Linked DNA regions of Homo sapiens. The protein of the gene in region 1 interacts with the protein of each later gene in a pairwise test. Each region holds a gene or a part of one and is shown in the gene's direction. Other genes may lie near its edges.

Region 1 (4,282 bases):
TCTCGAACTCCTGACCTTGTGATCCGCCCGCCTCAACCTCCCAAAGTTCTGGGATTACAGGTGTGAGCCACCACAGTTGGCTTTATAATACTTTTAATTTCAAAAGCCGCAATTACTTTTGCACTAACCTGATAGTAATTGACTCCCTTAAAAGTAGTCAAAGCATATTCCCAAGGTATTGGATGTGGATACATTTTTGTGGGAAAGTTGTTAAACTTCCAACAAGTTTATAATTGTCCTTGATCACCATGCATGAGTCAGATGGAGAGGGCAAAAATGAAAATTGTACCTTGTCAGGTGGTTTCCAAAGGTGGCACCTTTTATTATGTAATGTGCTCTACAGGAGGTAGACTAGGATTGTTTTGATGCATACAGCACAGAAAATGAATCTATCAACTTATATTCCTCATGAAAATGGAGCATGCTGTTTGTGGAGGCACAATGTGGGGTCATCCTGTGACCAAACGAGTGGCAACTCTTGTTCAAGTTTCCTCCTCGTTCGGTTTGATTTCAAGGTTACCTCAGTTTCAAAGCAGCCCTTTCTGTCCAGGGCACAAAACTCCTGATTTACTACTTACAACTAGTGGTTCTCAGCCTCAGATTCGCGTAAAAATTACCTGGAAGACTTTTCATTTTTAAATAATGTTACTGATATATATGTTATATGCAATAATATGCACCCATTTACTGTGCACAGTTTGATGAGTTTTGAAAAAGTTTTACCCCTTTTAAAGATTTAGAGCATTTCCAACACTCCCAAAAGTTCCCCAGGTCCTTTGTAGCCAACTTTTCTCAGCACCATCCACCTCTCCGCCACCCATCCTCCATCTCCTAGCGGGTGACATGGTACTTTGGTAGGTAGCACACAAGTGGATCGTTGGAGCTGAAGGATAATTCAAATTGGTAAACTGATTCGAGGGACCATGTGCAACCATGAAAGTGGTAGGAGAAGGGGAGTTGGGTGTTTAGCTGGCCTGGGAGGCAGGGAAGGTTAAAACAGGGCTTTTCAAACACAGCACTATTGATGTTTTGGAATGGATCATTCTTTGCTGTGGGAACTGTCCCATACATTGTAGAATGCTTAGCGGCATCTGTGACCTGTACCCACTAAGATGCCAGTAGCATTCCCCTAGTTAACAACCAAATATCTCTTCAGACATTGCCAAATGTGCCATCTAGTGCAAATCCTCCATTCTGCCCTCGAGAATCACTGGATTAAGAGCATTACCTTCTGTCCAGAGGCTCTAAAGGACTACACAGCTCATTTCACCTAGACGCTCCTTCCCCTTTTCTCTTCCTGACAGCCCCAAAAATTTCACTTTCATTTCTCAGGCAGTTCCTCCTCAGGAGGGAGGGACTTCTTCACACAGAGGAACCTCATTTGTTGAATGAATCCTGACCACACCCACCCTGGCTTTTCTTCACCTCTTCAACCAGGAGCCGAGATTTCTGTTGCTCTGAAGGTGTGTGGGGAGGTTTGTGGGGGGTAGAGGGTATGAGACTCCAGGAGAAAAGTTCTCAGTGAAGTTAGGGGAATTTGATTTATGGCCCCAAGTCTCCCCTGCTCTGTCGGGAGCAAAGGCTAGCTTGCAGGCTTCCTGCTTTGAGTGCACACTGATAGCAGCCTAGAGTCTGGGGAGGGACAGCCTTGAAAGCAGTGTTAAAGAGGCAGAAGGCCGCCTTTGTTTTCTGGGGTGTCTTTTTTTCCTCCAGGCTGAATCTATTTCCATTCCCTTCCTATTGTATAATTTTGATTTTCTACCTTGCAAAGGAAACAATTCTCTCTCTCTCTTTCTCTCTCTCAAAGAGATGAACAGAAGATCTCTTATTTTCCACCTCCTACTCCCTCCTCAAAAGAGAAGTTGGTGAAAGGAGGTCTCTGTTTTCCAAGTGTGTGCAGGGCTTAGCTCCTAGTATGTGGCGTCAGATAGAATGGAGCCATGGGAGCACGGCCAGGGGTTGAAGTGGGTTCTTTTGCTGCCCTCCTGGCAACCACTAAGGGGCTTTCTGTGGCCATCCTCACGTATTCTTAGTCCTTGGCCTCCCTGACAATAGCAGGTTGAGTGATGTGACTGCCGCACACCGCTCTGTTCCCTCTGTTCCTATGTCTTTCTGCAGGTCTCAGGGCTCTCCTTGCACATCCCTGAACATACCTGTTTACTTTTACTTCAGTAACCCATGTGCTACCAGCGTCTTCACCTGTCTCAGAACTTGCTCCTCATCATTCTTCCTCTTAGACACACCTTGGCATTGATTTGTAACCTCAATTTGTTATTGCTTTTCTTTGCTCACAATTACTTAACAGAAGTTGTTCATTGTGGGCTCAGAAGGAGCCCACGGATTTAATCTTCTTGTTAAGAATTTGATATAGAGTATGTCCTATCTTAAGCTCACTTGTGAGCAATTTGCACCTTGATTGATATGTTACAGATATTCTGACACATGCCATTCTGGCCTCTGCTCTCACCCTTCAGAGTTCACTGTAACTGCCATCCTGTGTCTCTGCCTTACTCCTGGGTAGAATCCATGTCTGCCTACATACTGACTGTCTCCCAGAGGCGTCTAGTCAGGCACAAGACCCAACATATGGGATAAAATTGATTATAAAGCAGGCTGCTAATGTAAAAACGTGCAATTAGCATCCATTTAACATTCAATAAATATGAAATATACGTGGAAGCCTACATCCAAATAGAAAGTGATCATAGACCATATCGATGAATGTTAGAGTACACAAGAAGATGACTAATACTATGGAGTAACATCTTCAAGAAGTTACATTAGGGTAATGACTCTGTAAAGACCTCATGAAGGCCTTGCAACTTTAAATAGTTTTTATGAAAGTTTTAAATAGTTTTCATTGTAAGAACACATTTGAGTAGAATCTTAAGAATGCGAGGAAATTAAAGGCTTTAATGGTTTTTCCCACGGGCTTAAAAGGAGAACAGTGTGGAAGATTAAGATGGGAGTGTGCCTGGAGAGGCATAAAAGGTGAGTTCTTACCAGGCGCGGTGGTTCACGCTTGTAATCCCAGCACTTAGGGAGGACAAGGCAGGAAGATCACCAGAGATCAGGAGTTCAAGACCAGCCTGGCCAATGTGGTGAAACTGTGTCTCTACTAAAAAAATGCAAAAATTAGCCGGGTGTGGTGGCGGATGCCTGTAGTCCCAGCTACTCGGGAGGCTGAGGCAGGAGAATCAGTTGAACCCAGGAGGTGGAGGTTGCAGTGAGCCAAGATCTCGCCATTGTACTCCAGCCTGGGGGAAAAGAGCAAGACTCTGTCTCAAAAAAAAAAAAAAATATGGTGAGCTCTGAGGATTGAGGCAGTGGGAAGGCATGTGTGATGTGGACCTAACTGGACCATTATGAAGTCTGGCCTCGCTCTGGGTGGCATGGGTTTGAACAGGAGAGTGACATGATTGACATCTGCTTTAAGGTGATCACTCTGTCTACTGATGTAAGAACAGAGATGAGAGCAGAGTGAAGAAGGACAGTGATGGGTGGGCACAGTAGCTCACACCTGTAATCCCAGCACTGTGGGAGGCCAAGGCGGGTGGATCACCTGAGGTGGATCATGAGTTTGAGACCAGCCTGGCCAACATGGTGAAACTCTCTCTACTAAAAATACAAAAATTAGCTGGGCGTTGTGGCAGGCACCTGTAATCCCAGCTACTCGGGAGGCTGAGGCAAGAGAAGCGCTTGAACCCAGCAAGCAGAGGTTGCAGTGAGCCGAGATCATGCCACCACACTCCAACCTGGGTAACAAGAGCAAAACTCCGTCTCAAAAAAAAAGGAAGGGCAATGATAGTATCAGCAAGACTAGTGGAAGAACAATTTCCTGAATTCAGGTGGTTTCTACCAGAGTGGTGGCAGTTGAGGTGGTTGGAAACTAATTTGAAAAAAAACTCTTTCAGCATATTCTCACGAAGTAACAGACAGAAAAAGACATTAGGGATTGCTTAATGAAAATGATTCTATGTTAAAAAATAGCTTTTTGGAGATATATTGACCAGAACACTACAGCTCTTGGGGAGAGAGTCATTAATGTGGTATAGATTGGGCCCTGGACTCTAAGGAGTAGCTGAAGCAAGAACTCAGTGCACAGAGGAATGGGGAGGAGATGCTACAATGTTTCTGAGCTCTCAGGGTCTCTGGATGTCAAAACAGGCTCTACTTTCCTTATTGGCAGTTTCTGACCAAGAATCCAGAAGAAGTGTCTAGGATATTGTCTAGAAACTTCAAAAGACATCCTCCCCTAAAAGTCACTCGTAGAGACACTCTA
Region 2 (3,822 bases), on another chromosome or scaffold:
TATATTATTAATCTGTCTTTTTCATTTACAATTTAGGCTTTACTCTTTACTCTTTGTTAATAGTTTTGGGTTTCCTTTTATCTGTTATTATGAGAAATAATTGATATGTTTATTTTTATTTTTGGTGGTATACATTTCAACCCAGGTAACCAGTGTTTTAGCAGCATCTTTCTAGGTACATAACCAATAATACTTTATCAATCCGCCTAGCGGCTCTTTTATTGTTTGTATAACTTCTGCAAGGTAGTCTCTTAGATTTTGATCTTTCATTGGTAATTCCTTGCAATTTACTGATTCTTTACAGGTACATTACAATATATACAGATTTTCTTGATCCAGTATTTTTTAGACTATGTCATGAAAAATGGAGGAGTCGCTTCAATTTTTTGTGTTTTGGAAATTAGTGAATCCCTTAGAAGTAAATAATACCATAATTTCCAATGTTATGTCTTGCTTAAGCTCATTTCCCAATCTTTCAAGCTCCCAATTTATCTTTCCCTGAAGTCTTAACAAGGATTTTGCATATTGTACCATTTTCTCCTGATCCTACTTCTTCTCCGTAGTCATAAGAATTTAAGAATTGCATTTTTGGTCTGGTTACAAACCTGGTGTCAAGAAAAACAGTGTTTTAGGCTGGGCGCGGTGGCTCATGCTTGTAATCCCAGCACTTTGGGAGGCCGAGGTGGTGGATCACTTGAGATCAGAGTTTGAGACCAGCCTGGCCAACATGGTGAAGTCCCATCTCTACTAAATACAAAAAACATTAAGTGGATATGGTGGTGTGCGCCTGTAATAATCCCAGCTATTCGGGGGGCTGAGGCAGCAGAATTGCTTGAACCAGAGAGATGGAGGTAGCAGTGAGCCAAGATTGTGCCACTGCACTCCAGCCTGGACAACAGAGCAAGACTCCATCTCAAAAAATAAAAATAAAAAAATAGAGAACGATGTTTTACACAGTAAGCAATTCTTTTCCATGTATCATATATGAATTAGGTCAGAACAAGCAAACCAGTTAGATAATATTAAAAGCAATGATATGTAATATGTAGATTTCTTTTTTCTTTTCTTAAAGATACAATAAAAGGGAAGAAGATTTTCCTAGTCTAAGAGAATACAATGATTTCTTGGAAGAAGTGGAAGAAATTGGTACGTTTTTAATTTGATGTATGCTAGCCTATAAGACCATGTGCTTTTATCTTTTAAATGCTTAGGAGAACATCTCACATAAAAACCTCTTAACAGGTTTTGTTGTGATAGCTAACATTTACCTAATTACTTTCTTTTGCACTTGAGTCATGTTTGTCAAATTGAAGGCATACTTAAGTAAAGAACCTATTTAATATTGTCTTTTAGGAAAAATATGTTTAATAGAGATAGTAACACTTCATAGCTGGGGAGGAAGACTATATGGGTACATGCATCTGTGTGTTGATAACATATTAGAGTAGTTTAAATGAATGGAAAACATATTCTGATTTTTCAAAAATGGGGTTCCTATTAACCATATTTATAGTGACTAAAGCCATATGTTTATCATTATTTGTGCTTCTGTGGATATAGTAGTCTTAAAGTACTTTGAAGCAGTTGACTGTTGAAGTGGCATTCTATTAATCAGTATTATTCTGGAATCAGAGGTTGGAGTAATCTTTGTGCCTTTTCTTTCTGATGTGTTTAGTCAAAAGGAAGATTTTATCAAGAAAAAATGATTTCAGTTTTCTTAAATAAAATTTCAGAGATGTTAAAAACTTTGGAAGTTGTTATATGTTGATTTAAAAAATAATGCTGCTTTTTAAACTTGCAGTAATTATTACTAAGTGCGGGTTTGGAAATGACACAAAGGTTATATACTGTGAACATTAGAATGAGACTATGAGGATCAAACAGCAATCATTTTTATTCTTTCAAACTTAATAGGTAACTGTACTCAATATTTACTATTAAAAATAAGATTATAATAAAATGGATCATTCTTTAGAAGATTTATATATGATAAACTTAACAATTCAGATTCCTGAGGAATAATAAATATTCTAATTCCTTTAATTTCTTTACTAGAAAATCCAGAAAATCTTTTTGTTTCAACTGTTACCTGAAACTTTTCTCATATGTCTAAGTTCATTTGTTATGCCATAGCAAAAGCATGTGGAAAACATAATTTAGGGTTTCTCTGGGATCTTTCAGTGCCATAAGAGCCACTGCTTTTCCATTCTGCATGTACTCATTGCACTTTGTATGTTATCTTAGCAATCATGAGTGACTATGGATTTTAGCTGAAAAGATGGTAGAATTGGGAGTGACAAGGCAAAGTGGAAAAGTTAGAATGTAGACTGAGAAGAAAAACCAGAAAGAAATCTACAAGAACTGGGCAAGTATGAAGGTATGTAGAAATCTGGCTCTATATAGATACTAAGTATAGGACAAGCTGTTGGATAGCAATTGGGAAGAAAAGTAGCTTACATATATTCTAAAGGTAATGTGATTAGTCAAAAGTCTGGTCAAGCAATAAAGGGAAAGGAAATTATAGGTGTTGCAGTACAAGTTGAATACATGGTCACAATTACAAGCAGGCAGTCAGGATAACTAAAAGAAACATATACAGAGAAGGTGAGGAATAGGTTTAGGGGATGAACTACAAGGAGATCTTGATTCTGGGATTAAGATTCTGACTGAGCTATGATTAAAAAAATATATATATATATATACACACACACACTGCATATATATGTGTGTGTGTGTGTGTTGCTCCAAGATAAAGTAATTTGAAGGTGTGGACAACATGGGGCCCATAATTGGTACTAGAATTGATAGGCAAGAGCAAGTCTGGATATTGGGGGTATACAACATGTAATGCTTTCTTTACCAAAATATAGAAGCTGTGGCTCAGACCATTTAATTTGAAAGTGATTCTGCTATTATGTGTATTCATGAAGGACTGTCTTCAGTTGCAGTATCGGGAAACTCTCTTAAGCAACCTCCACTTAATTGTCTCATTGAAGTAACTGTCATTCCCCAGTTCTTCCATAAAAGGTACTCACTGATACCCACAGCATAATGAATGCATTGTGAATGCCATCAACCTTCTTATGCCAGTTGTACTTGTTATTGTAGTTATGTAGTTATGTAATTAAATACATATTTAATATTATATGTAATTTAAATATTTAAAGTGTGTAAGGTTGGGGAAAAAATTGTAAAACTCTAGAAGGATTCTGTTTCTCAGGTTTTTAAGTCACTTCTTAAAAAATGGAAATTGGCCAGGTGCAGTGACTCGCGCCTGTAATCACAGCACTTTGGGAGGCCAAGGCAAGAGGATTGCTTGAGCCCAGGAGTTTGAGATCAGCCTGGACAACATAATGAGATCTATACCAAAATTTTAAAAAGTAGCTGGGTGTAGTGGCACACGTTTGTAGTCCCAGCTACTTGGGAGGCTGAGGTGGATCTCTGAAGTCTAGGAGTCCAAGGCTACAGTGAACCATGGTTGCGCCACTGCACTCCAACCTAGGCAACAGAGCATGCCCATGTCTCAAAAAACCAGAAAACAGAAAAGGAAACTGAACAATATAGATGACAGTTATGGCCTATATAAGGAAGAAGCAAAACTCTAAAATCTAGAATTTGCTCTATGTCATTAAGTTAGAGAATGACTATATACTTCCTATATATGTTTTAAGTTAAAGTATTTGAAGAGAGAGACAGGTGTATGTGTGTGTTTCTCTCCTTTAACAAACTTATTTAAATGTTCAACTATAAATCCTCATTGTGTTTATTAAAGAGTGGTTCTACTCTATTTAAAGATATTGATGATTTTTGGGAAGTAACCTC

What was found.
Region 2: the proteins of TRIM34 (region 1) and MNAT1 interact in a two-hybrid assay, tested with the Homo sapiens proteins (one large-scale study listed by BioGRID and IntAct).

Annotation. Positions count from the first base shown.
Region 1 is NC_000011.10:5,623,598-5,627,879, forward strand, and holds the start of TRIM34 (E3 ubiquitin-protein ligase TRIM34), read left to right. Parts: upstream 1-1,403; 5' UTR 1,404-1,463; intron 1,464-4,282.
Region 2 is NC_000014.9:60,797,015-60,800,836, forward strand, and holds part of MNAT1 (CDK-activating kinase assembly factor MAT1), read left to right. Parts: intron 1-1,072; coding exon 1,073-1,146; intron 1,147-2,244; exon of another isoform or gene 2,245-2,377; intron 2,378-2,397; exon of another isoform or gene 2,398-3,027; intron 3,028-3,822.